Regions from separate parts of the Homo sapiens genome. Here all the other regions are reported to be linked to region 4. Evidence: microRNA targets listed by miRTarBase, many of them from high-throughput screens and not tested one by one. Region 4 holds a microRNA gene; each other region holds the end of a gene's coding sequence.

Evidence for each region. Region 4 holds the annotated microRNA hsa-miR-204-3p (GCUGGGAAGGCAAAGGGACGU, at 3,310-3,330, shown strand). A microRNA usually pairs through its seed, bases 2 to 8, with sites in the 3' UTR of a target mRNA and lowers its output. Matches are read on the target gene's strand: a 7mer-m8 pairs with bases 2 to 8, a 7mer-A1 pairs with bases 2 to 7 and ends in A, and an 8mer does both.
Region 1: the mRNA of CNGA2 is a reported target of hsa-miR-204-3p. Seed matches in the 3' UTR shown: 7mer-A1 at 1,035-1,041.
Region 2: miRTarBase lists DERL2 as a target of hsa-miR-204-3p. Seed matches in the 3' UTR shown: 7mer-m8 at 4,445-4,451.
Region 3: the mRNA of FGD4 is a reported target of hsa-miR-204-3p. Seed matches in the 3' UTR shown: 7mer-m8 at 581-587.

The regions. Positions count from the first base shown.
Region 1 is chrX:151,743,509-151,751,377 of GRCh38, forward strand. It overlaps CNGA2 (cyclic nucleotide gated channel subunit alpha 2), which reads left to right. Exons shown (of 7, transcript NM_005140.3): 7 at 1-2,056. The coding sequence ends at 990. Among named protein-coding and RNA genes, the nearest start is that of CNGA2, 13 kb to the left of the region's middle.
Region 2 is chr17:5,468,745-5,476,973 of GRCh38, reverse strand. DERL2 (derlin 2) reads left to right here. Exons shown (of 7, transcript NM_016041.5): 7 at 2,185-5,720. The coding sequence ends at 2,290. DHX33 (DEAH-box helicase 33) reads left to right here and starts at 7,992. Exons shown (of 12, transcript NM_020162.4): 1 at 7,992-8,229. The coding sequence starts at 8,115. It overlaps DHX33-DT (DHX33 divergent transcript), which reads right to left and starts at 7,882. Exons shown (of 3, transcript NR_135644.1): 1 at 7,835-7,882; 2 at 6,980-7,060; 3 at 6,614-6,882. RefSeq lists an enhancer at 7,899-7,968.
Region 3 is chr12:32,640,008-32,645,007 of GRCh38, forward strand. It overlaps FGD4 (FYVE, RhoGEF and PH domain containing 4), which reads left to right. Exons shown (of 17, transcript NM_001370298.3): 17 at 269-5,000. The coding sequence ends at 526. Among named protein-coding and RNA genes, the nearest start is that of DNM1L, 37 kb to the right of the region's middle.
Region 4 is chr9:70,805,094-70,813,322 of GRCh38, reverse strand. MIR204 (microRNA 204) reads left to right here and starts at 3,239; the gene lies at 3,239-3,348. All of the region lies in intron 6 of TRPM3 (transient receptor potential cation channel subfamily M member 3), which reads left to right.

The sequences.
Region 1 (7,869 bases), not on the chromosome of region 4:
ACTACCATTGGGGAGACACCACCCCCTGTAAAGGATGAGGAGTACCTATTTGTCATCTTTGACTTCCTGATTGGCGTCCTCATCTTTGCCACCATCGTGGGAAATGTGGGCTCCATGATCTCCAACATGAATGCCACCCGGGCAGAGTTCCAGGCTAAGATCGATGCCGTGAAACACTACATGCAGTTCCGAAAGGTCAGCAAGGGGATGGAAGCCAAGGTCATTAGGTGGTTTGACTACTTGTGGACCAATAAGAAGACAGTGGATGAGCGAGAAATTCTCAAGAATCTGCCAGCCAAGCTCAGGGCTGAGATAGCCATCAATGTCCACTTGTCCACACTCAAGAAAGTGCGCATCTTCCATGATTGTGAGGCTGGCCTGCTGGTAGAGCTGGTACTGAAACTCCGTCCTCAGGTCTTCAGTCCTGGGGATTACATTTGCCGCAAAGGGGACATCGGCAAGGAGATGTACATCATTAAGGAGGGCAAACTGGCAGTGGTGGCTGATGATGGTGTGACTCAGTATGCTCTGCTGTCGGCTGGAAGCTGCTTTGGCGAGATCAGTATCCTTAACATTAAGGGCAGTAAAATGGGCAATCGACGCACAGCTAATATCCGCAGCCTGGGCTACTCAGATCTCTTCTGCTTGTCCAAGGATGATCTTATGGAAGCTGTGACTGAGTACCCTGATGCCAAGAAAGTCCTAGAAGAGAGGGGTCGGGAGATCCTCATGAAGGAGGGACTGCTGGATGAGAACGAAGTGGCAACCAGCATGGAGGTCGACGTGCAGGAGAAGCTAGGGCAGCTGGAGACCAACATGGAAACCTTGTACACTCGCTTTGGCCGCCTGCTGGCTGAGTACACGGGGGCCCAGCAGAAGCTCAAGCAGCGCATCACAGTTCTGGAAACCAAGATGAAACAGAACAATGAAGATGACTACCTGTCTGATGGGATGAACAGCCCTGAGCTGGCTGCTGCTGACGAGCCATAAGACCTGGGGCCCAACTGCCTCTCCAGCATTGGCCTTGGCCTTGATCCCAGAAGCTAGAGGAGCTATTTAGATCTCCGGATTTACATGCATTACCCTCATGTTCCCTGAATTCTCCCAAAAGCCTCTCTGACCCTGGGTTTTTGGCCTAAACATCCAAGATTCCGCCTCCAAGTTTAGCCCAAGTTTGTGGAGAGTACAGACTGCGTTGGCTGGGCTTCCGAGAGCTTCGGCCTGCCTAAGTCTGAGGAAGGGAGAAGGGGGCAGCTGTCTGCCAGGAGTCTGGCTCTTTTGCTCATAGCGACCCCTCCCTTGGTTCTGGCCCCCGCTTTTTCTAACATGTCTTCTGAATGCTTCCTTTTTCCCTGCACACGCATGTACTTCGAGCACCGACTATAGACATTTAGATCAGGTACCCAGTGTCTGTCTCCCACGACAGGCCAAGGGATGTGATAGTGTTGTTGGGAGGGGGTAGAAGGGTGCCCACTCAGGGTTATTCCTCCCCCATCAGATGCTCCAGCTCCTGCTCTGTAGATTGATCTGTCTGTCTGCTAGCCAGGATGGGATCTCTGCAGTCTTCTGTGGACCAAGGAGATAGACCCGGCTTCTGGTCCATTCCAGGGCAGGGAGTGAGGAGCAAGGCAACTGGCATTTGTCCACCTGGAGACAGAGGTAGCTGGCAGCTCTGGCCATCCCTCCCCTATGAAGAGCATTCCTAAAGAGGCCCTGAAAACTGCTGGTGGTGGGGAGACTCTTCAAGTTAATATCTGCATTAGAGGCACCTATGAGTTAAAAAATTCCTTTGAACTATCTGTGGTTATTGCTCAACTCTGCTGTTCACATTCTCTCCCTCCCTTCATTAATCCCTCTCTTTTCACCATATGGTTGTCCCTCAGTATTCATCAGGGATTGCTTTCAGGAGTCCCCATGGATACCAAAATTTGTGGATGTTCAAGTCCCTGATACAAAATGACGTCGTATTTGAATATAACCTATGCACATCCTCCCATACTTTAAGTCATCTCTCGATTATTTGTAACACCTAATACAATGTCAGTGCTATGTAAATAGCTGTTATATTGTATCTTTTCTTTGTATTATTTTGATCTGTTATTTTTTTCCTGCATATTTTTAATCTGCCATTGGTTGAACCTGCAGATGTGAAACGCAAGGATATGAAGGAAAGACTACTTTTCTTTGCCCCTATCCAGAACTCTTTCGGTCTGAAATACACTCTCCCACCTCTCCCTGCCTGCCTAAGCCTTATGGGTCCTTCAGGGCTTACCTCAGGCACCACGTTCTCGCAGAAGGCCCACTTGACTGCAACCACTCCCACACTAGTCAATTATCTCCTCTGTAGGCTCCCACAGCGCAGAGCCTCTCTGTCCTGGTTTTGTAATGTGCGGTCAGTTTTAGTGGACTTGGTTTCCCCTCCTGACTGTGGACAAGGCCAAGACAGTCTACCTCATGTGTCTATTTGGAGCCTCAGTGACATAGCTGGCACTGAGGAGCATTCAGAGAACATTTATTCATTGGGGGAGTAAGTGAACACATGAATGAGTGAATGAATGGATGAATGAGCAAAGAAACACAGCGGACCAAAACTCTCATGCTTCTCCCTGACAGCAGTCATGCCTTGACAGAAGCATTGGCTCTGCTGGGGGAGTTGGGAAAGATCTCCTGGAGTATCAGGTCTTTCAGCTGGGCATTCTAACACGATCAGGAGCCTAAAGGAAAAGTACTAATTAGTGGGCAAGAAAATCCAGGTGCAGACTCAGAGGCCTTCCTGTTCACATGCACACCACTTATTTATTCATGTATTTCTTGTGGTGAAATACACACAAAATTTACCATCGTAATCACTTGTAAGTGTACAGTTCAGTAGTGTTAAGTATATTCACATTTTTGTGAAAACAATCTTGAGAATTTTTCACCTTGCAAAACTGAAACTTTGTCCCCAGTAAAAATTCCCCATTGCTCCTTCTACCCAGCCCCTGGAAGCAACCATTCTACTTTCTGTCTCTATAAATTTAACTTCTCTAGGGACCTCATATAAGTGCTATCATACAGTATTTGTCCTTTGTGTCTGGCTTATTTTACTCAGCATAACATCCTCAAGACTAATCCATGTTGTAGCATGTGTCAGAATTTCTTTCCTTTTTAAGGCCAGATAATATTTGATTGTATAGATCACCACATTTTGCTTAGTCATTCATTTCTTGATGAACACCTGGGTCGTTTCCACCATTTGACTATGGTGAATATTCCTGTATCCATGAGTATACAAATAGCTCTTTGAGACCCCGTTTTCAGTTTTTTGGGCATATACTCAGAAATGAAATTGCTGGATCACTTAGTAATTCTATTTTTAATTGTTTGAAGAACCATTTTCTTTTCTGTGTGTCACCAAAACAGTGACATCATTTTACATTCCTACCAGCAATGCACAAGGGTTCCAATTTCTCTACATTCTCCCCATCACTTAGTTTCTGTGTTTTTTGTAGCTATCCTAATGGGTGTCAGGTGAATCTTACTGTTGCTTTGATTTTCATTTCTCTAATGAGTGGTGATTTTGAGCATATTTTCACAAGCTTATTGGCCGTTTGTATATCTTTTTTGGAGAAATGTCTATTCAAGTTCTTTGGCTATTTTTTAATTGGAGTGTCAAGTTGTAGAAGTTCTTTATATATTCTGGATATTAAACCCTTATCAGCTATGATTTGTAACTATTTTCCTTACTGTCTACGTTGCTTTTCTACGGTGTGACCATGTGGATTGTGCCCCTTGGTATGCAGAAGTGTTTAATTTTGTTGTAATTCAATTCATCTGCTTTTGCTTCTGTTGCCTGTGCTTTTGGCATTACCATTCCTTTTTATGTGGATTCATCCTTCTGGCCAGGCTTCTTTTACATTTAGTGTAGTTTCTTGACCTCTTCCCTAGCTTAGAGGAAGAAACCTTAACCAGGGGAAGACTCACCTGGACGGATCTGTAACATGACACATGCCTAGGTCCTGGTCCCTGAAAGTTGCAGAAGGAGAGAGATGCATTCATGATGGAGCAGTGCTTTGTGTACACCCCCCTTTGGGTATTGGGCTTGGAGAAAAAGCTCTAAACCCCTTTGCCTCAAGAGAACCCCACGCAACAGGAGGAGTCTTCGGAGACCTAGCCAGCTCCTTGCCAATAACCTCATTGCTAAGGTTGCACTGAGTTCAGTTTTTACCGTGTCTTGGAACCAGGACAAAATGTAATTTTTGCAGGCGTAAGATGGTACTGGGGCCAGAAACAGGGGGATGACTGCATTGAAATTTTTTGCCTTGATTTCAGCAAGAAATCTTCAGTGTTCTCCCTGGAGCCTGGTTCACCATCAGCCCAGCCCCAACAGGTGCCTGATTTCCAGCCCACATCATGGGATGGACATTGTGTCTTGGATTTGGTTTTCCCCAGGGCAAGGCAGGCACCTTCTCTGGACCACATGGGGAGCTCATTGGTTCAAGACACAGACTCCAGGGCTCAGCTCCCACCCTCTTCCAGTTTTCTTTTCCCCAGATATCCTTGGGCCCACTCTCTCATAACTTTTTGCCATGTCTCGAATGTCTATGTTCTCTTCAGCTTTCAGGTATTTTCTTTTATTTTTTAAATAAAATTAAATCCAAATTTTATTAAGGATTTCAAGTTACATACTTCAAATTTCTACAATGGAATGGAATCATTTTGGAACTGGAAAAGTGGCATAAACACTGACATCCCTTGAAACTACAATTTTATAAAGAAAATTCTGCAAACCACATCCCCATTATGTAACAAGACTAGGCATTATCTACACCTTCACTTTGGCAATAGCTATTTCCCAAAATAATGAAAAAGGTGATTTTGCTACTTCAGTTCATTAAAAACGGGATTCTATCTTTAAGGTTCAGAAAAAGCTGCATTTAGATGAACTATGGTTACCCGCTCCCCCCACCCCCCAAAAAAAAGAGAGCACAGAGTGTCTAAGCAAAGCAAAGGAAGTCATTTTGAAAATAAAGAGAGAAAAGCTATTATAATTGGTTAAGGATTTCCAGTAGTAAGTGAAAATCTCAGGAGAGGAATGGATAGCACTACAAACAATGTGTTCACATTCCAAGTCCTTAACACTAACTTTCTCTGTTCTGGATCTGGGCAAGCAGCACTCTGTTAGATCTTTGCGTGGCTCCTAATTTTATAGAAGTGGATGGATGCACTATTTCACAAGGTCTAAGAGTTTTTTTCAGATATTTTTGATGACTGTACTGTAGTAAATACTATAGGGATAGCACTATAGTATTGTAGTCATGAGACTAAAGTGGAAAAAAGACTATTTTTGACAAAAGATGCCATTAAATTTCAGACTATAGAGCCACATTTACAATATCTCAGGCTAATTACTGTTAATTTTGGGGTTGAACTTTTTTTTTTTTTTGACAACAGCGAGGGTGGACTATTGGATTGTCATTAGAGGAAGGTCTAGATTTCCTGCTCTTAATAAAATTACATTGAATTCATTTTTAGAGGTGATGAAAACTTCCTTTTTGAGAAGTTAGTGTTCAGGTCTTGGAATGCTTTCAGGTATTTTCTCATGCTGTTCCCTCTGCCTGGATTACCCTTTTCTGCCACTTTTTCTTCTGAGATGAAATTCACAGGCCCCTTCTCCGAGTCCTGCCACAGCTTTCTATGTGAGACTCCCTTGCACACTGGTCTGCAAGTGTCTGTTTAGCAATAATATATTCTCATCTAAAGACAGTTTGTTCATTGAGAAAAGGATGAAGGAACAACAGAAGGAATATCTGTGCAGCTTGTCGTGTGTGTGTGTGTGTGTGTGTGTGTGTGTGTGTGTGTTTGTGCGCGTGTGCCTGTGTGAGGATCTGGATGTCAGCCTAGGCAGTGTCTGTCTCTGGCCAGCCCCTCACCCACCCTCTCTCCGGTTGTTTTCTCTGTAAGAGCGTGACTCTCCTGTCTGTTGCTGGCCGCCGCCCCCGCCTCTCTCCTATAACTGGCTGTAATATAGGAACTGAAGTACGTTTTCCATTATGTGTTGGATTTATTCAGCACAGCCTGATGTTTCCTGCTCTTGATTTTAAAATGTTTAAATTGGAATGTTTTTTATTTTCATTTGAAAATACCCATTGAAGGTAAATTGCTCTATTTGCATATGGCCATCAATTGCTTTTCTCTGCATTGGTGACCTTCTATACAAAACAAAAGTCCCCTCTCCTGCGCACCACACTCCTTCTTCTTTTGGTGTGACCTGTGGTGGTCCTTGCCTGGCCAGCCCAGCCTGAGTCCAAGCCTCAGAAGCATCTATTCCTTGGTCTGGAGCTTAAAGTTAGTCTGACCATTTATCCCCTCCCTTCGGTGAATCCGAGGCAGAGGGTCTCTGTCTTCTGTTTAGCCTGGAAACAAGGAAGCCCCCAGTGCACAGAGATGGGGAACCCTACCACCAGAGGGCGCATGAACCTCAGGAAAGGGTGGTGGGCTCCACTCTGCGAACCCTCCACCCAGCAGAGGACTGAGCAGGGCCGGTTGAGGCAGTTAGGTGGCTGCCCCCCGGGGCCTTGCAGAGCTATTGGACAAGGTCTCTTTCCCATTGTGCCCCACTGTGGTCCCTTTGAAGGCCCTCAGAGGTTCCTGGGTGTCAAGGCCAATGCCCAGTACAAGTTTCTTCATGCTAGGTACCCAGACTCTGCTGGAGACTGGGGAAGGAGAGAATGTCAGGGTGGAATTACAGGGAGACTTGAGCACTATGGTTGTCATTACTTATTGTATTCAGAAAAAAAAAAAAATACTAGAAGTCTAAAAAACCCTTGATGTTATGGATAAGATTGGTTAGCATGGAGCTAATGTCAGCCTACTTAAAATTGACATAAATAAAATTATTATATAAATAATTGTTCCAGTGTCACATGAAGGTAGTACACAGATGATTGTGTACATTTAGCCAAATACCTACTTGATGCCACCATGGTATTTGAAAAGTAACACCACCATAACTCACCCTTTGGTGTTTCCTAGAGAACCTGCTCATCTTCCCATGTTGGTCATGGCACGTCTGTCCTTCAGGTTGCTCAGGCCAAAGCTCCTGATGTAATCCTGGATCCTTCTCTTTTCTTCATCCACTGCATCCAATCAGCCAGAAAATACCCTGTCTGCATAACTTTTCAAAGTCCAGTTAGAATCCATGCACCTCTCCCACCTCCGCCACTCCCGCCCTCGTGCAGGGCTCTCTCCTGGATGACTGCAGTCGCCTCCAGACTGGTGTCCCTGTTTCCACCTTTGCTCCCTCCCCTCCAACCCACTCTCCATCTAGCCAGCAGAGTAGTCAAAAGCAATGAAAGTCATGTCTCATTCTGCTTACATTCTTTTGGGGTCTTCCATTACTCTTATAATAAAATTCAAACTCATGGCTTGGTCTCCAGGTCCTGTTGCACAGCGCCCGCCAGCATCCTTGGCCTCACCTGCTTTCTCTCCTGGCCTCTTCTGGAGTCAGGTCCTCCAGTCTCCTCTGAGTTCCTCAGACACACCCAGCTTCTCTGTCCCTTGGCAGCCTTGCGCTTGCTGTCTTTATGTGTTGCTCTCTTTTCCTCTGGAACTTCTGTGACTGGCTTCTTGTCCTCAGGACTCCACAATGAAAAGAGCCCCCAGCCTCCCAGTCATGCTGATCTCGGCACCCTGTGAGGTTTTCCTAACAGCACTTAGCACCCTCCACAATCTTCTTGTTCATTGGTTTCCTTGTTTATTGCTTGTTTCCCCAATTAGAATGTCAGCTCCCTGAGATAGACCTTTGTGCTGGCCCCCACTACATCTGTAGCACCTAGAGCAGCTACTGGTACCTCAGTGTTCTGTACATGCCCAATACTGGGAACTTCT
Region 2 (8,229 bases), not on the chromosome of region 4:
GACCAGGCTGCCCTCTTACAGGGATGCCTCCCCATCCTACTCGGGCTAACATCTCGTCAGGCCACCTCCATGTGTGCATGGTCTGATGGGGCTCTTGACTCCCTATACCAGGCTGTGCCCCCACCCCCATCCTGCTAATGTTTGGGCAGTAGAAGGGATCTCAGTTTTGTTTTTGTTGTCGTTGCTGTTTTTTGAAACGGATTCTTGCTCTGTCACCCAGGCTTGAGTGCAGTGGCTCAATCTCGGCTCACTGCAACCTCCGCCTCCTGGGTTCAAGCGATTCTCCTGCGTCAGCCTCCCTAGTAGCTGGGATCATAGGCATGCGCCACCACACCCGGCTAATTTTGTATTTTTAGTAGAGATAGGGTTTTGCCATGTTGGTCAGGCTGGTCTTGAACTCCTGACCTCAGGTGATCCACCCTCCTCGGCCTCCCAAAGTGCTGGGATTACAGGCATGAGCCACCACACCTGCCGGGATCTCAGTTTCTAATATACTTTCCTTTGATTATTGTGAGAGCAAACATTCTCACGTTTATTGACCACATGGATTTCCTTTTTGAATTGCATATTCAGCCCTTTGCCCATTTTTTCTGTTGGTATGTTTGTTTTTATTGTTAATTTGTAAGAATTTTAAAAACTCATTTTGAATTATACTATTTTCTGACTCCAGTATAAATCAGAAGTTTTCAGATACATTTCTAATTTTATCAACTGTGGAGGATTACAAGTAGAAATATAAGTGCAAATTGAGGATGCTGCTTTAATGGTTCCTTCTTTAGTGAGGTTTTGAATTACTACATCATAGTACTTAGGGAGTCTTTTGGACATTTACTATCCCCTCCTATGTTCTGCAGTAATTTTTCTTGGGATACCTTGTTAATTTTTTAAAAATTTTGTGGTAAAATAATACCTAACATAAAATTCACCATCTTAACTCATTTTAAATGTTCAGTGGCATTAAGTATATTCATACTGTTTTGCTGCCATCACCACCATCCATAGAACTCTCTTCATCCTACAGAACTACAACTCTGTACTCATTAAACAACTCCCCACCCCAGCCATCACCATTCTATTTTCTTTCTCTGAATTTGACTACTCTGTACCTAAGTGGAATCATACAATATTTGTCCTTTTTTGTCTGGCTTATTTCTTATTTCATTTAGCGTAAAGTCCTCAAGGTTCATCCATGTTGTACCATGTGCCTGAATTTCCTTCCTTTTTTTTGAGACAGTCTTGCTCTGTCGCCCAGGCTGGAGTGCAATGGAGCAGTCTCAGCTCACTGTAACCTGTGCCTCCCAGGTTCAAGTGATTCTTCTGCCTCAGCCGCCTGAGTAGTAGCTGGGATTACAGGCATGCGCCACCACGCCAGGCTAATTTTTGTATTTTTGGTGGAGACAGGGTTTCACCATGTTGACTAGGTGCAGTGGCTCATGCCTGTAATCCCAGCATTTTGGGAAGCCGAGGCAGGCAGATCACCTGAGTTCAGGAGTTCGAGACCAGTCTGGCCAACATGATGAAAACCTTCCCTCCTAAAAATACAAAAATCAGCCGGGCGTGGTGGCGGGCGCCTGTAATCCCAGCTACTCGGGAGGCTGAGGCAGGAGAATTGCTTGAATCCGGGAGGCGGAGGTTGCAGTGAGCCGAGATCGCACCATGGCACTCCAGCCTGGGCGACAGAGTGAGACTCCCGTCTCAAAAAAAAAAAAAAAAAATTCTATTATATGTGTGTACCGTATTTTGTTTATTCACCTGTTGATGCACACTTGGGTGATACCTTGGTTATGGGGAAACATTAATGATAAATATGTGAAAGTCAGGTTACAAAACATGTAGTGTGATCTAACTTTTGTAAAATGACATAATGTAAAAATTCCCAAAGAATAACTAAAACATTGACAATAGTTACCTCTGGAAATTGAGGATATTTTGCTCATCTCTATTTCCTCCTTCTCTGTAATTATTATGATTTGGATTGCTTTTGTAGTAAAAATCAGTAAAAGATAAAAGCTAATGTAAATGTTAATAATTATAGATGCTCTTACAATATGTTAACTGTTTAATTGGCAGGCAGGTGTAATGCTTACCTATTGGTGGAAACCCTATGGGGCCTGAACTGACCTTGTAGTACTTTGGACCTGAGATGACTCTGGGACCAAATTATATCTGTTGCTTGTCTTTTAGGAAAGCTATTTTTGATACACCAGATGAGGATCCAAATTACAATCCACTACCTGAGGAACGGCCAGGAGGCTTCGCCTGGGGTGAGGGCCAGCGGCTTGGAGGTTAAAGCAGCAGTGCCAATAATGAGACCCAGCTGGGAAGGACTCGGTGATACCCACTGGGATCTTTTATCCTTTGTTGCAAAAGTGTGGACACTTTTGACAGCTTGGCAGATTTTAACTCCAGAAGCACTTTATGAAATGGTACACTGACTAATCCAGAAGACATTTCCAACAGTTTGCCAGTGGTTCCTCACTACACTGGTACTGAAAGTGTAATTTCTTAGAGCCAAAAAACTGGAGAAACAAATATCCTGCCACCTCTAACAAGTACATGAGTACTTGATTTTTATGGTATAAGGCAGAGCCTTTTCTTCCTCTTCTTGATAGATGAGGCCATGGTGTAAATGGAAGTTTCAGAGAGGACAAAATAAAACGGAATTCCATTTTTCTCTCACTGTATTAAAGCTTTTGTGTGTGATCTTTTAAATTCTGATAATGTATTGTAGCCCTCCTGCGTAGATCTGAGCTCAGAACAGTTTACACAGCTGTTCTTCCTGTGTCTTCACAACTTTTAACTGGATTTCATTTCAGGATTGGAAATACGTGGCTGTCATGCTGTGGTTGTGTACATCTTACTAACTCAGAATGCAAGATTCAGCAGGAAGATGATTTATTTCTGTCATCTGGATAGGTTGTTTTGCATCTGGGTTTTGCCAAACTTTGTCAGACAACATGAAAAAAAAGGAGGGAGGATGGTTCTTGTAGCAGTAGGAATTCAGCTATAGGAAAGTCAGCTGTAAGCTAATGTGGCATCTTATTTGCTTTACTTACATTTCTCCATTAAGAAGTATCCAGGGAAAGATTGGTAAGGGCCACATTTTTGTAAAACTAGGAAGATTTTCATTAGACTTTTTTTTTCTTTTATTTTTAAAAAAGTTTTAATTAAAAATTTTTTTTTAAATACAGATGGGGTCTCACTGTGTTGCCCAGGCTGGTCTTGAACTCCTGGACTCAAGCAATCCTCCCACCTCAGCCTCCCAAAGTGCTAGGATGACAGGCATGAGCCACCATGCCCAGCCATTTTTTTTTTTTTTGCCTTTTTTGTTTTGTTTTGTTTTTTGTTTTTTTAATTAAAAAAAAAAAATAGAGACAGGGTCTCAGATTTTCATTAGATTTGGAAACCAAGTTAGAATGTTGACTTTGGAGCCAGACGAACAGATACCAGTTAGCTAGGCATATGTTCTTCCAGGGTCTTTGGCTAGTTAACATTAGTCATTTGCTTCGTGAAAATTCAAGAACCTTTTCAGAGCCAAGTACCTGGATTACCTTCCCAATCAGGTAGAAATTAGACAGGGTCCACAGAAGTAGACACTTAATGCTGTGGTTCAATAAATACTTCCCCTAAATATTAAGTCTTCCCTGAGTCTCAGCAGGTTTGCATTCACACTGCTTAAGTAACTTCCAGAACCTGGAAGAGTCGAAAGAGCACCCCTAGGAAAGAGATGATTCCAAACAGCTTTCATTAACGGCATGTAGGCACAGGTCCCTTTCCCAAAAGTGGATTGTTAGTAGTAGTTCATTCAACCTTTGTTAAGGGGTAGCTTTCCAGAATGTGACATTGTCCTCAGAAAGATAGACATAGGCTTAAACATAATGGACATCCTAAATAGGAATTTTCAGATTGTTTTTGAAGTGAAAAGTGTTTTAATGTCTTTAAATGGAATTGCATAACTAATGGTATTTAAGTATTTTACATGTTGCTAATAACTTTGAATATGATTGTTGCAATTTTATGGAACCTGGGTCTATGGGACTGCTTTTTAAGCAGTTTAAAAAAGGTTTTCAAAGTTTAAAAGCCAATCTTAGCATGTATAATCCTTATGGGATTCTTAAGTTTTATCCTATCTTGTTTTTGCTCAAGAACGCTTTATCAGTGACGTTTGTTAGAATTTTGTTTTTTGTTTTTTTTTTTTAAATTGTTTTTGGGCTAGAAATGAGTTTCTCTAGTTTTATTTGTTCTCCCTGAGTTGGAGTTATGCAATGAATGGCATTTTTGTGGTAAAATACTAATCCTAAAATCTGTTAACTCACTGTTCATTTAAGTAGGGAATATCTGTATACATTAATGACTAGGTAAAACAGGAAATACATTTTGAATATACAGCCTAAAGGCAGGCAGTTACAGGGTTTTTGATTTCTCCGATTTTATAGGGTGCAAGTTCCCAGTGGCAGGATGCCCTGCTGTGTGACTGACTACACTGTGTCCTGAGCAGTGGTAATTTCAATCACCTCTCATCAGTTTGGCCAGCCCTACAACCACCATTCCTAGCCCTGTGTTGCTTGACAGGATACCTGTGCTTGAATGGACATAAGGAAAAGTCCTTACTTTCTCCCCAATTTACCTCTCAATCTTAGTTCTTCCAGAACACACTTCCCTTTCACAATGCAAATAAACTGAAAGTGAGATTTGATACATGGAATTTTGAGACCAACCAACTAACCTTACACATAATTTGAGGGATTCCTGGATTCTTCTAGTGATACTGAAAAGCACACTTGACTAAAGCATAGTGTTTTTTGTTTGTTATGGAAATACGGTATACGTTCATTTAAAAATAAATGGACATACAAATTGCATCTCCTTAGGAGATACATTTTATATACATTTCGGTGCGTTTTTTTCCAGTATGGATTTCTATTTGTTTCTCTCTTCCTCTTGTTTTTTCTGTGTCACTCTTGTATGTCCTCATATCTTTCATACCTCTTGTGTAGTCTCTAGAAGCAGAACACCTAAGTCCTGGGTCTGGATAATGAAACCCTCAGTCTCTGGGGCCTCTGAAAATAAGGAAGCATTGGAGCTATTGCCATGTTGAGTAATGGGCTTCCTAGAACTATTGTCATCTATCCTGCCAGTGTTTTATGTTGTAGCTGTTTTTCTTTGACAGGTGAGTTCCAGCTATGTTGTTAGTCATGATCCTGCCATTATTTTCTGTGTTCTGTAGGATGTCTCCAGGCTACTTAAACATATTTTATGAGTTTGCAATAAAATTGTTGAATCTTGTATGATCAAGTCACTCCTCTGCTCAGAAATCCACAGTGACTTCTTAGTAAGCCCCTACATTATATGCATACTTGTTTTTTTCTTAACTTTACTCCCACTTCTACCTAACAGGGACCTCAACTTAAGTCTCTTCAGTTCTTCAAGGCCTGGCCTTGTTCCTGATTCCTCAAAAAATCTTGACTCTAAGGCCTATTTTATTGTCTGTCTCTGAATCCCTATAAAGCTTCAAGTCTGTATGACATTCTTAACGCCAAATTATATATTGTCTTGTACTGTTCCTAGCTGGTACATGTATATTAGTCTTGTCTCCCTCATGAGAATGTAAGCTCCTTAAGGGCAGGGACCATGTCTTAATTTTTGTATCCACCACAGTGCCTAGCACAGTGCTTGGCACATGGGTGCTGAATAAATACCTTTGTTTATTGATCAGCAAAGTATTATCTGGTATTTTTAATTATAGAGGGATTAAAGTGTATGCATGCAAGCTTGAGCCTAGTTGCTGAAGCTTGTGGTTGTCTCTGAAAGTGGGATAGAGGGAAACTGAACATGATCAAGGGCAGTAATTTGGTGGTCGGAAAAGCAAAGGTGACCACCAGCTGTTATGGTCGTGATCAGACCAGTTAAGTCCACAGACCATCCCAGACAAGTTAAAAATGAAATGTGTCTGACACTTCGTCGTTTGAAGGAAGAACCAGGATATTCTCTGAATAGTTATTAGCTTGTCAGTATCTACATATGAAAGCTGGTGAACCCCAAGAGACTTCTTCAGGAGAAACAGCAGATTTCAGTCTACCAATGGGAGAAATGTGAGCAGCATGGCTTGATGCATATATAGGACTTAATTTTTCCACTCTTTGGTCCTCTTAGCTTTGAGGCTATAGAATAGCTGGATCATTAGGCCAGAGATTATGGATGAGTTACCTACAGATTTGTTACCTACCTATGTGCTTTGTTTTGACAGTACTTTTTTTTTTTTTAAGTTTAAACCTGTATTTAACATTGACAGATAAAAATCTTCACTTTTGGCTTTTCTTGAGAAAATTGGAAGATCTGGCAATAATAGGTCTACATGACAGCCATTGCCTAGAAATGATTAGGGGCTGCATGTAGAGGTGGAATGTGCTCCATCAAGAAATAAGTCCACCCATTTACATTACCTAAATTATTGTAATCATTTGGAACATCGGACTCCTACCTTAAGTTACTCTGGAAAGCACACTGGGAAAAAGGACTGGGATGTCTTTACTCAAAGTCCATAATTTGAGAGTTAACATTTATTATCCCTTGTAGTTTTGGGTTGCCTTTCTAAATATTTCAGGGTAGGAAGTGAAAATTTGTCAGTTTATTCTTAAACACAAATCTGCTGCTGGTTCAACGTGCACATTTTCAGTAATGCCTGGTCACCAAACTGTCAGCAACTAGAGGAAAATTATCTCCGACCTGGAGCAAAGGGGAGGTTTTTTGTTTTTAGACTAGCTCTCTCACGAATCACGGGAAGGGAGATATTTAACAGGGCGAGTTTCATGGAAACGAGCTTCAGAAGATACCCTTCACATGAGCTGAAGCTTACGGTGTATTCTCTGGAAATCACATTTCCTGTAAGAGCAAACAGCTACTTGGCATTCTCCGTGGTAAATTAGCAAATCATCTAAGAACTTTTAGGAGGGTAAGGAAGAACTAGTTATAATCCTACTTTTTTCTGCTGCAGTTCTGAATCTTCACTGAAGTGTCTGTGATGGGGTTGCACAGCCATGTAGAGAACTTGAGAGTCTGGCTGGAATGGTTGGGGGAAAGGAAAGATAAAAGACAATTTTAATTTCATTGAACTCCCTCCTTTCTCTGCTTGTATTACTGGAGGCGACCACATCCGTTGGAGGAGTCATTTTCTGAGTTAAATTCATGTATATCAGAATTGGTTTTCCTTTCTGTAACACAAGATGATCACAAAATTATGATTTGGGGACATCTGAATGACTAAGATGACTCAATTTCTTAATCTGTAAATTAGAGATAATCTAATAACCAGTATATACCACATAACTTATAAGTTGTTTAGAGGATTAGACAATGCACGTTTGCGCTTCTCATTGATTTTACAGAATTAAGTACTTTCCTTGAAGAGTGACTGTTATTTGGACAGAGAAGGGGAAAACGCGGGTTTACTGAAAAGAAGTAATGCTACTAGAACAAAACAATGGGCGGGGCGCGGTGGCTCACGCCTATAATCCCAGCACTTTGGGAGGCCGAGGCAGGCGGATCACCTGAGGTCGGGAGTTCAAGACCAGCCTGACCAACATGGAGAAACCCTGTCTCTACTAAAAATACAAAATTAGACGGGCCCCGGTGGCGCACGCCTGTAACCCCAGCTACTTGGGAGGCTGAGGCAGGAGAATCGCTTGAACCCAGGAGGCGGAGGTTGCAGTGTGAGCCGAGATCGCGCCATTGCACTCCAGCCTGGGCAACAAGAGCGAAACTCCATCTCAAAAAAAAAAAATAAAACAATGAGAAAAACCTCGTTAACCAAGACTACAGTCCCACGGAACCTTACATCCTGTGTTTCCCGGTTGTAGCTCCGGGCCTTTTCCTGGTTGTACCTCAGGCCCTGCTTTTCCCACCCCCAGGAAGTGAAAGCCTTCCCAAGCCCCCAAGGCATGCTGGGAGATGCAGTCCCTTTTTCTAAAGACTGGGGCGGCCGTGAGGTCATCGGTGGTCGCCGGGAGCCGCCAGCACGTGGCGGCGAGGAAGGGGCGGTGTGCTCCTGTTGTCTGCACCTGAGAGGGGGCAGGAGCTCTCGGCGCTTGCGCCTCCCGCCGCGGTGCCCTCCCGACATGCCGGAGGAGGCGGGCTTCCCGCCGGCCAAGAGATTCCGGCCAGGCTCTGGACCTCCGAGCCGCGCTGGGTCCTTCCCTCCCGGGAGGCAAGTGGTGATGCTGCTGACTGCGG
Region 3 (5,000 bases), not on the chromosome of region 4:
TGAAAGGCTCTTTTCACAGAGAGGAGGGTGTAGTGTCTCTGAGTCCTAGCTGATTTGGGTGTCAGCTCTCATTCATTCAGCTAACATTATCAGTGGCCTCACGTACAGGCTCTGTACTAAGCAATGGGATTGCCCTCTGTGCCCATGGAGAACTCACCGTTTAAGTCTGTTTGGGACAGTGGTAGGAAGAGAGGTTTAGTAGGAGCAAGGGACACACTTAACAAGCGAATACATCACCTGCTTTTAATGTCTGATGTCTTTTCTTTAGGACGTCAGAGCCCAGGCCACCATTCCACTTCTGGGCTATGTGGTGGATGAAATGCCAAGGAGCGCAGACCTGCCACACAGTTTCAAACTGACCCAGTCTAAGTCCGTGCACAGCTTTGCTGCAGACAGTGAGGAACTGAAGCAGAAGTGGCTGAAAGTCATCCTTTTAGCTGTCACAGGTGAGACACCAGGTGGTCCAAATGAGCATCCAGCCACCTTGGATGATCATCCTGAACCTAAGAAAAAATCAGAATGCTGAACTCCTCCAGGACCAGCCATGGTGTGGAGGTCTCAGGACTTACAGCTCAAGACATTCCCAGCTCTTCTTACACATCTGCTAGCACTTTATGTTGAAAAATATAGGCCCATAAATGCATCTTTTGAGGACTATTTTCCTATGTTTATGTACTCTTAGTGAAATTAGTGTGCAGAGTCATTCTACCGATAAAGTTTTGAAATAATGTGAAAACTGGAGCATTTTTTGAGCTATTCCTTGAATATGTGCTTTTTTGTCTTGAAGAAATGGTGTATCAATTGATTCTGTCACCGTCAGGTTAGAATGAGCACTTCCATTTAAGAAATCCTTTCATGTCTTCTTCTCTTTCACATGTAGGACCTGGAACAGTTTGAAAGATATACCTCCATGTTGCCAAAATAGATCCATGGTGAAAAATACAGGGACAGTTGAGGCTATTGTATTAACTTATTTAATTTAGTTTATAAATCTCTAGCTGCATAAATGATGTCTGTTCTTTTAAAACAAAAGAAAAAGGACAAATTGTTGGTGTTCAGATTTCCGATTTATAAAGAAAAGATAACTTGTTTTTGTAGAAATACTCCTAAGAATGTCTTAAGTATATAGCAATTATGTATATATAGTATTAAATATATATATTATACATGCTTTTAGGTTCACATTCATCTCTAATTTATTTTTTAAATATAAAGCATGGTTTATCGTGGAATTGAGCAATGTTCTAAACTGAAGAAATGTTTTGGTGATTTATGTTTTGCTGATTGGCATTTGAGGGTATTGATATTTTTATAATAAGCGGTAATTTATGTGGCATGGGATATATTTGTGAATTCCAACAGTACTTTTAAAGTACCATTTTTTGTTTCTGTGCCTATTTAAAACAGTGCCTCTCTTAGAAGGTGCTATTAATATAAGATGAGGGTTCAGTTAATGCTTCAGTCTTGATTATTCTAAGATTAAAGTGCATTTTGGTCACTGGGACAGTCAAAGTCATACAGGTTATTTTACCGTTTACAATCCTATAATTATTGCAGTAGTTAACATCAGCATGTACAAACATTTTCACCAAAACCCAAACTTTATGAGACACCTGACCTTTTACAGAACTAGGATATGTGGAAACCACATTTATCGTAATGTTTTTCTTTTCCGTAAGATAATCGAGCATGGTTAAATAAGGTCTCTATATAATGAACACTTAAGATAACTGTATGGGCCTTTTCCTTTGTCGGAATGAAACAAAATCCACATGTGATAACCTATGTTTGGGGTGGGGGCTGGTCACATGATTCCTTGTCATGAAGGCTGCTCTTCACTCTTTTGTACTTGTGATTAAAATCTCACACTAAGTTTACTATTTAACTTAATCCTTTTTCTCAAATTAAACCTTTTTTTATACTGTCATACCCCAAACATTGTCACTTTTTAATGTACCAGTCTGCTAGAAATCTACAAGAATGATCCCACTATCTTTAGTATGTAAGGATTACACCTTAGATATAGAATAGAATTTGAGACTGCCACACATTTATTCAGGCCTTGTTACTTTAAGAAATATCTTATTTTTTCCACCCCAAAGGAGCAAGTGAACCAATTATTGCTGACATAATAGGTTCCCTTCCTCCATAAAAGGATTATCAGCCATGATCATTAACATTAAACCAAATAGATGGAGCCAAAAAGAGATAAAAGTAGCTTCTTAGGCCCTATTAAATCAGGGAAAGACTAGAAGAAAATTTACATTGCTTCTCTTTTTTAATGGCCAGCGGGGTATGTGTGTGATGTATACTCAGAGTGGTTTTTTGGAAAATTAAACTGTAGCTATAGATGATGCTTTGGTTTTCTTAATCTCAAGAAAAGAGAAGCAATGGAAATACAGAATGATTAACTGGGGAAGAGGACTTTTGTAAGTGTGACTAGAACAATGGTAATGTATGGGCCAATGGGAAGATTTATAAGTCAGATTATTTTTGAAAACTATTTTTAAAAGCAAGAAGACTACACTTTCCCTACCAAAACAGAAGTAACATGGACACACTTAAGTTTTGGCTCAATAAATATCAATGTTATTTAACTTAGATCATTGAAAGAATACTCATGTAAAGATAATGTTTATTATCATGCTCTTAACAGTCATTATCTTTAATTTTTTAAATGAGAAGCATTAATACTAGAAGAGAATTTCTGGTTATCCGGTCACCATATTCACTTTCCACCCCACATTCTTCAGCTAAACGCAAAGAGAAGCAGTGAAACAGCCTTACCCGCTTCTCTCTTATTAAAGAATCACTGATGTTTTTACTCAATGAAAGGTAAAGTAATACCCTTAGCCATTTATTAAACAATTCAACCAAGAGACCTCAAAGTGTGATTGATGATAAGAATAATCAATGCCTTTTCCCTTCCAACATACTTGAGCAGTCATGACAACCTAAAAATATCATTGGTTGCTTTCCCATTAAAACCAACGTTCCCTGTGGGTCTTAATTCTTTATTTTCACTCATTTGGTGCTTTCCAAGTCATCTTTTCTTTAAAGTGCCCTTCCTCCAAACTTTAAAAAGTACTTCCTTGACAAAATTTCTATTCATTATAAAACATTTCAATATTTTAAGCTTAAATTTTGCTTTTGCTGAAAGCCTACCATTTGGCGTGTTAAGTATGAAATATAGTGCAGACTTTTATCTTGGTTTTAAGTGGGGCTCAATAAAAAACACCAGCCACTTTTGTAATAATGGCATCACAGTGTCATCATGTATGCAAGCAATAAAACTCTTTAGGGTATGGTTTTATACTGAAAATTTAATATGAAGGCCCCTTCCCACAAGAATATAGATAATTATTAACTTTCTAGATGTGATACGGTAATTCGAATTGCAGAGTATAAGGAAGGGAAATGGGAAGGGGCATCATTCCTTGGATTTTAAATAACTATCAAGAACATTTTTACTTTAACAAAGAAAATGGATAGAAAAAGCACATTTTGTTTTCCCTGAAGTTTAATTTGACATCAGGTTTGTGTACTTATCTTCACTAGGTGACTTAACTTACCCCAATTTTTTTAAAAATTATTAAACTTTTTACAGAAACTAACCTTTTAAATGTACCCTTTCCCCATATATATATACGCACACGTTTGGATTTTTTTTTTTTAAGAACACTTGTTCTAGTTATAAATATATAAAGAAAACGATAAAGTTTGTGGTACTGCAGGGTTGTTAAAGATTCTTTGATGCCTTCTAAAAACTTTTGTCAAAAATACTTTTGAGTTCACAATTCTGTTTTACTTTTCCTTGTCCTTACTTTTTGGAAACAGGGTGGTTGCTTTTATTTGTTTTCTGGTTATATTCAAAGCCTTAAGTTCTTAATCTGAGCATATTGTCTGTGATAAATTTCTGATGATCTTTCTGGACTAGATACAACCTGAGTAGCAAGCACCAACCGGAGCAAGTAAACTTCTAGGGAACAAGCGTCTTGGGTTTTATAGGTATCTTTGCTATAATGCAGAATAGATTAATGAAGATTTCCTATATCATATGATATTTGTGTTAGTGGGTCTAAGATTAAGCACATGATATTTATAAGCTAAAATTAACTCAAAAGTCAAGAATGTCTTAATGTTTTCATTCTTAAATTTTGTATTCTCCAAGAATGTATTAGTATATGAACTGTGGCCAACCAGTTCCTATTCTTCAGACTGTATTGACATCTGTAGTGGATCATGTTGCTTCTTCATTCTTACCAATTTTATTAGAATCAAACTTCTTGTTATTTGCATACTATTATCTACTATAGATTCTCAGCTTTAGAAAATGACTATGATACATAAAGACCACTAGGTCAACTTAAAAAACCCTTTCTGTGAATTTATACATGTATGTATATATGTAAAAACACTGTTGATTTGCAATTCTGTCTTTCCATAGAAATGAACTTTTTCTATCGAAATTGTTTAACTTAAATATTTTAACATAAATTATTTACATGGATCTTTATGTATAATTCATCCTTATATATACCCCTTAATCACGTAGTCATGAGAAGATAACTTTGCTTTCTTTACAGAAAGGGCAGAGAGGAATAAGATAAGAAACTGAAACAAGCAAGAATGAAGAGAGATGTGGGGGAGAGACTGCTGGTCTCCAGACCACAGCAATGTGTTTTAAGATAAGATGAAATATTTTAACTGCAGAAGGGATATAAAATCTATGTAATTACATGCTGATGGGATCCATTGCACCCAGGTTTTTGACCTTGGCCTGTAAATGCTAGACTATGATATCTTGTTATTCTTTTTCTCCTTTGGGCTTTTAAAAAATAATTTCATTCTCAGATCATTTTCTGTACTGTTTACTGAGGCAAAAAAAAAAAAAATCTGAAGTCAATCATGGTCTTCTACTTTCTGGACTGAGCATTTGGCAGAATGCAGTATCTTTTCCTGTATTTTGACATGAAATAGCACATGGCTTCTACAAGATA
Region 4 (8,229 bases):
ATAGTATTCCCTGGTGTATATGTATCACATTTTCTTTATCCAATCCACCACTGATGAGCACCCGGGTTGATTCCATGTCTTTGCTATTGTGAATAGTACAAAGCAGTAGATGTTAAGTGCCCTTTAGTAATATAAAGTGCTACAGGAATTCAGACAATGAGCATCACTTAGCGCATTGCTTTCATCTTGCAGATAGGAAAGCCACTTGTAAAAAAAATCACAGTCACGTGTTCTGACTAAATTCATTACGTGAATTACCTTGGTAGAGCTTTTATCTGAACCTGAACTCTAAACTCCTTGTCTGCTCTTCTTTGCCCAGCCTTGTGTCACTACCTTAGTTTCACTTTTTATTCCTAATTTTCCCCCTTAAGACCATTTTTTTCTATTGTGTCCTGAAAGGTAATTAAGAAAATATTGAGACAATTTGCGGACATAACACATACCTGCTATCCAGAGATTTCCATTTTTAACCATAGTACCACTAATCTCACCCCACTTGACCTTCACTAAAGTATTACTTAATTTTTTTTCATTAGAGTTTGATAAATGGGGGAAAAAGAAGCTGAAAATACCAGCATGCCATTCACTCTGCAGGAAAGACATAGCTAAGCCAATGTTGTGCTTGGTTCCATTAACAAGTGCTTGTGCTAAATTTCCAGGAGGGTTTGTGGTGTTGTCTATTTGAAACTTTGCTGATAGTATTAAGCCAGCAGTCTAATTGCCATACACAGTGCTAGAATGGCCTGGGGAGTATGTGCTTAAAAGCCGAATTTATGTCCTCAGAAACACATTAATTAGGAACTCTCTGGAAAATGTACAGTAGTTGCTCTTGGTTGGCCATTTTACAAACTATTGAGAATCCAGAGGAACCAACCCTTAGAGGCTGTGCTTCAAGTGATATTGCTTTGCATTTTCCCCAGTGAGTACATTCTTATGAGAAGGCAGCTTTGCCAGGGTATGGGTGCTGACATATAACCAAGTGATGTTGATGTTTCATGAAAAGTGGGTGAGTTCCTACATGCCTCTCACCAGCCAGCTACCAGCTGCCAAACTCCTACTTCCCAATATTTGCCACAAGTGAGGCTGCTCTCAAAGTCTAGCTTGATCCTAGGAAGCTAGGGTCTAGAGATCTAACTTGAGGATTTGGGATCTTCCCTTAATGCTGTCTCTAAGGAAGGAACAAAATGAAGGCAGAGCAGAGCTGTTCATACTCATGGGGTCCTCCTCTGAGACCATCTGACCAAAGGCTAGCTTGCTTAGCAACTCCAGAAATATGATATTACCATTAAGTTTATCTCCTAGTTTGGGAAACAATAACCAAATTGGTAGGAAACCTGCCAATTATACTGAAATGGTTTTGATGACTTTTTTGGAAGATATGTAGACATAGTCATAGATGTAGATATATTTATATCTATACCTTGGCCAGAGAGAGAAAGAGGAATCAGTCCAATTAATAATATTATGCATGTTGAGTAACATGTTAGCTTTGTTTCAATTCCTCTTTTAAAAAGAAAAGAAAAGAAACTGGGTAGATTAGCCTCTAAATGGATAGTTCTTTTAAGTCAAAAGTAGCTAAACACTTGAAACTAGAACACTTATTTCTCTAGAAATCAGGAAAATGTTATTAAAAGGAGGGAAGGAAAGAATTCAATTCCTATCGTCTCCTGGAAAACACAGAATTGGAAGATTCATAATTATCATTATAATTAATATAACAACAACTAAGATTTCTTGAGGTTTTACTAAGTTCTAAGCATCAGTACAAGCACTTAACAGATATTAACTCATTTGACCCTTTCCACACCACAGAAGCTATCTAGGCTGGAAGAGAATAAAGAATGATACTTCCTCCAGCAAAGAGCTATGATTTTTAAGGACCTGTCCAGTTGAAGGAGTGATAAGACAAGATATAGCTGGTGCAGAAGGGCTGGATGATGCTCTACATAGGTTTCACTGTGCAACTTGAGTTGCCATCACGTATATAAATTTATGTAAATTGGGTAATCCATCTGCTTTAATAAAATGTGTATGCAACCACAGGGTGTAGAAATTTCAAAGATTTTATTTTTTGACAGGATGCCTGCCGTTTTTCTCTCTTGACTCCCGCTTGTTTTATTCATTTTGGGGTAGTTGCCAGTTAGACTCAGTTGGTAAGTATAATTAATGGAAAATGTGAATTTCTTCTTAAACTCCAAGAAATTAACCACAGAAGTCTTCATTTCCTTTATAATTTCCTAACAGTATCACTCCCTATGACTGTTGTTTTATCTCTATCTCTTCTGACATTCAACCACATCAGAAATTAGTTACTCCCTATTATTTATCATCCTAAAGATACCATATAGGACAGCTTGACGGCACTATTGGGATACTACTAGGAGGGAATGAGCATTTATTTAGGTTCCAAGCACCATGCTAGGCATTTTCATATATACTATCTCTTTTAATACTCACAAAAACCCTTCAAGATAGGGATTATTTTCTTCCTTTTATACAGTTGATGAAATGGCACCTCCAAGAGGTTAAGCCTTTGCCTTAAATCCAATTAGTGGCACAGCTGGGTGCAAACCTAGGCTGACATAATTCCAAAATACTTTCTCCTTTCATCCTACACATGGAAGCATTATCTCATTTTTTTAAAAAGGCTCCCCTAAAGTTTGGTTACCTTGGAGAGTTTGAGGGTCATTATTCCATTCAGCAACTATTTGAGCACCAACTCTGTGCCAAATATAGGTTGAGCATTGATTCAGTTGGAATGAGTCATCAAGCAAAACTTTGGGAAGAAGATGGTGGTTAGTTGCAAGATGGTGGAGAAACAATATTAGGAAGAAATACAACAGGGTGCTGGAGAGGAGCGTGGGGATGGAGGCAAGCAGAGGACCTCCTGATCATGTACCCATAGAACAGGGCGATGGAGAGGAGGGTGGGGTTGGAGGCAAGAAGAGGACCTCCTGATCGTGTATCCATAGGACAGGGTGATGGAGAGGAGGGTGGGGTTGGAGGCAAGCAGAGGGCCTCCTGATCATTTACCCACAGGACAGGGTGATGGAGAGGAGGGTGAGGGTGGAGGCAAGCAGAGGACCTCCTGATCATGTACCCATAGGACAGGGTGATGGAGAGGAGGGTGGGGGTGGAGGCAAGCAGAGGACCTCCTGATCATGTACCCATAGGACAGGGTGATGGAAAGGAGGGTGGGGGTGGAGGCAAGCAGAGGACTTCCTGATCGCGTACCCATGGCTACAGTCTTTCTTCATGTGACTCGTGGACTTCCCTTTGTCATCCTATGCCTGAGAATATATGAAGGAGGCTGGGAAGGCAAAGGGACGTTCAATTGTCATCACTGGCATCTTTTTTGATCATTGCACCATCATCAAATGCATTGGGATAACCATGACATGAAATTTTCCATCATTGGGCCCATAACTGTCCCATAAGAGAGATGAAAAACACTGTATGTTAAAGGTCATAGTAGAACTTCATCCAAGCAGCTCTGGAATTAGGAAGGAGTGAAATATACTCTCAAAGACTAATAGTTCTGGGTCCAAACCATGTGACTTGAAAAGGAAGCAAAGATTCCCCTGGACAGGTTACATATACTGTCATGCATTGCTTAACGATGGGGTTACTATATCCTCAGAAATGAATCATTAGGTGATTTTGTCATGAACATCATAGAGTGTACTTATACAAACCTAGAAGGTATAACCTACTACACACCTAGGCTATATAGTATAGCCTATTGCTTGTAGGCTACAAACCTGTATAGCATGTTACTATGTGGTAGTGAATACTGTAGGCAACTGTAACACGATGGTAAGTATTTGTGTATCTAAACATAGAAAAGACACAATAAAAACATAGTATAAAAGATACAAATAGTACACCTTAATAGGGCACTTACCATGAATGGTGCTTGCAGGACTGGAAGTTGCTCTGGGTGAGTCACTGAGTGAGTGCTAGAATATTTTTGTATACTACTGTAAACTTTATAAACACTGTATAATTAGGCTATACTAAATTTATTTTTTAAATTTTATTTCTTCAAAACTAAATTAACCTTAGCTGACTGTAACTTTTTTACTTTGTAAACTTTTTAACGTTTTAAAACTTTTAGACTATTTTGCAATAATACTTAGCTTAAAACATAAGCACATTATGCAGCTATACAAAAATATTTTCTTCATTTGCTTATTCTATGAGCTTTTTTCTGTCTTTAAAATTTTTTATCTTTGTATTTTTTAAACTTTTTTCTTAAAAATGAAGACACAAACACACTCATTAAACTAGGCCTGCACAGGGTCAGAATCATCAAGATGTCACTAGGTGATAGGACTTTTTCAGCTCTATTACTACCTTATGGGACCACCATTGTATTTGTGGTCTGTCATTGACCAAAGTGTCATTATGCAACACATGACTGTATATCAAGAACATCTTATTTCCTTCTGTGGGTGCTACAATCTGTTCAGCCCAATCATGCAAACTTTCTACTGCCTCAAACAGTCAAGGGAAAGGCCTTCCAAAACACAAATACCAAATTGATGATCAGTTCACTTTAGACTGTAATGACATCATTTTTCAGGTGCTGTCAAGTAAACATGTTTAAAGCTTTCTCCGCCTTTTAGAGGGTCTTCCCTCTAAAGAATAATTTGTGAGGAATAAACAACACAATCTATATCCCTGCTTTTTCATTATATGAAACGACTTGACACAGTTGGCTGTGTAACTGAAATATTTGTCATGCTTGTTAATGAAAAGTTACTTTGTCAATAAAGGTAATAATGAAGCCAAAAAAATAACTTTGAGGGAACAGAGCAAATTTTAGCGAAACTGGTTTCTTGGTATTGACTTGTCATGTTTATCTCACCCATTTTCCTATTCAAGCTAAAGACCTCCCTTTTTTCAGCAAAGAGACTTTTCTACATTGGAATTAGTTGTTCAGGGACTGGGATAGTTCTTGTAAACAAGTAGGTCCCAACAGGAGAGCTGTCCACCATTCTAAGACTTCTTAGACACTTTTACATTCAGGGAAGAATTTTGAGCTCCCTTTTCAGATTAGAAAGATTTGGGTTGCCAATGTTTGACTGGCATTTTGGTCTCAAAGTCAGCAATGTTTACTGTTGTTGGTCAGATACAATAGGTTCCTAGCATAACATAGGAACCTGTTATCTTGATGGAACCCAATATCTTCCTTATTTCATTGCTAACTACCTTTCATATTTTTCATCTGTTTTTATAGCTTCTCCTAACATAACACCATGTAGATCGTATGTCCCATCCATTTCAAGATACTTACAGTTTCCCTTAAATGATATACCCTACTGGATGTGGTTTTGTCTCTTTCTGACATTTACTAAAATTTCATTCTCTTCTCACTCTAACTACCTGGCCAAAACCTAAATTCCTTCAAGTCTCAGATTAAAAATCTTCTCCTCTCTGTAATCTTACCACAACTCCCATCCCTAGTATTCCCTCCAGCTCATACCCTGGTATCCTCCTGGGCCCACATTCACCTCATCCTCCATGCTCTTGCTGTGCTCTATATCAGCCTCTCCCACATACAGCTCCTTTTGGTAGAATGGAGCCTTCATAGTCTCCCATCTGCCTTCACAGTCTCTCATCTTCTGTAGATTGTGAGATCCTATAGAGCACAGCCTGTGTCTTATTCATTGTGGTCATTCTGAAAACCTTGCATAGTGCCTAGCCTATGCAAGTAGGTGCTCAATAACTTGTTATTATAAGCATCACTGTTTGATTTCCCTGGCTTTATTTTTAGCTCTGATTTTCAACCTGACACAAAGATGTAATAGAAGCGACTAGATACTAAAAAGCTATAAAAAAGGACAAATCATAAAGCAATAATGACATAGAAAGACTCAGGATAAATAAATAGCAACATGTACAAGCAAAGACCATCATGCATACTTCCAATTCATGGGCATAAAAGCATTTAGTCTGAGAAAGTTGACTGTGTTCCTGTTGAATTATGATTGTTGTAAATCATTTATATCTTATGAATTTAGAGAGTCTAATGATACATATTTTACAGCAGCCAGTGCACCGTGGCCTCAGTATTTCCATTTCCATGGAAAAAGAAATAACTATTGATTTTCCTCCATTTATTCAAAATGATAATTGCCCATGGTTGCTTTTCAGTCCAGATCAGGATCATTCCATTTAGTAGAAGTGCATGGCTAACTTTAGAAAGTTAGACACACATAAAATTAATGGGAAAACTTATGCTGACCGAGCAGTTTTCTGCCATGATCAACAGTTTTATAGTGAGATATATTTAGGGAAGATAAGGTGTCTCATTCCCTGGGGATCTTAAAGAAAAGTGAGCTGAGATTTTAATTTGCTTGAGATAATCATCTTAAAACCAGGGACTTTATCATAGGACCCTTCAAAGTCCCTTCTTAGGATTTATAATTATTTGTCTCTTCAAATTATTATTTAGATCATGTCAAGTCATTGAAACTAATGGATGTAAAACTGAAGAATCATTCATATAGTCTTGGGAAATGACTATAAATAGTGCTCCCAGATGTCACTAATAAAGTTGTCATAGCTGTTAACAGAATAAAAACTTTTTTCTTTTTATTTTATTTTATTTTATTTTATTTTATTTTTGAGACGGAGTCTAGCTCTGTCACCCAGGCTGGAGTGCAGTGGCATGATCTCAGCTCACTGCAACCCCCGCCTCCCGTGTTCCAGCGATTCTTCTGCCTCAGCCTCCCGAGTAGCTGGGCTATAGGCGTGCACCACCAAGCCCAGCTAATTCTTGTATTTGTAGTAGAGACTGGGTTTCACCATATTGGCCAGGCTGGTCTCAAACTCCTTACCTTGTGATCCACCTGCCTCATCCTCCGAAAGTGCTGGGATTACAGGCGTGAGCCACCGTCCCGGCCAAAAACTTGTTAACCTTGAACCCCTTAAGATCCCAGCTCAGGATCATGAGCCCCTGAGGCAAATGAGGAAAACAGAGATTTTATGCCCTAAAATGGCCAAATAAGGAACAGTTGATTTTTTTTTCTTTTTTGGCACCCATAGCTGAAACAAACAGCACTTCTCCTCATGAACAGGCTGTTCTCCTTCTGTGTTGGAGGCCAGGTTTCAAAGCTGCGTAATGAGTTTCACGTGCTGCAGCCCAGCAGGCAAACATTCAAGTCCTAAATCGCAGGCAGAAGAATGAAGAACTCTCATTGGCTAAGGAGCCTTGGCGTCGCTGGGTTCACATGGGGTACTGGGCAATTCCTGCTGGAACGAGGCAGGGTGAAAAAACAGGTGTGCCTGTGCTAAAACAGGGAGGAAGATTGAAGAGTCAGCTTTTCTGGTCATCAAACAAATCTGAGCTGAGCCCTTCCTCATTAGCAGCATTTCTTCCACCCAAAGGGAGAACAGAGGAAGTGCACACTGACTCTGGTGCATGTTAGAATTTATTATAAAATCCTGGGGGAGGCTGAGAAATAAGCAGCAATTAAACATGGTGTGCCTGCATGAAGAGTTTGGGGAGAAGTAGAAAGTTCACTTCATCTTTCTATTTCCATTCTTAGATTCTATTTTTGCACATGTAAAGCAGGATTTGTTTTCTTTTGTTTATTTTTTTCATTATTCAAGTAATAAGAACTCTTATAGGGTGTATGAATTATTGTTCATAAACTTAGGTATGTAGGAAATGTCACTTGGTAAACATTTTCTTTTATTCAAATAAACCCAATTCCAAGACCCTTTCCACCTGGTTTGTGGTAAAGTCAATCTTTTTTTTTTTTTTTTTTTTTTTTTTTTCGAGATGGAGTCTGGCTCTGTCGCCCAGGTTGGAGTGCAGTGCCGCAATCTCGGCTCACTGCAAGCTCCGCCTCCCGGGTTCACGCCATTCTCCTGCCTTAGCCTCCCGAGTAGCTGGGACTACAGGCGCCCGCCACTATGCCCGGCTAATTTTTGTATTTTTAGTAGAGATGGGGTCTCACCGTGTTAGCCAGGATGGTCTCGATCTCCTGACCTCGTGAGGTAAAGTCAATCTTAACCTTCATTAGGTCTCTCTGTCTCTCTCTGTCTCTCTGTCTCTCTCTGTCTCCCCCCACCACCACCTCCCCCACCCCAGTCTCTCTCTCACCCCACCCTCCTCCTTCCTCTGCCTCTCTTCTCCCTCTCTTTCATGATCATGCTCCTTCTCTCGTGCTTACAGAGTACTTGGAATGTTAAGATAGAGCCTCTTAACTTTTGTCA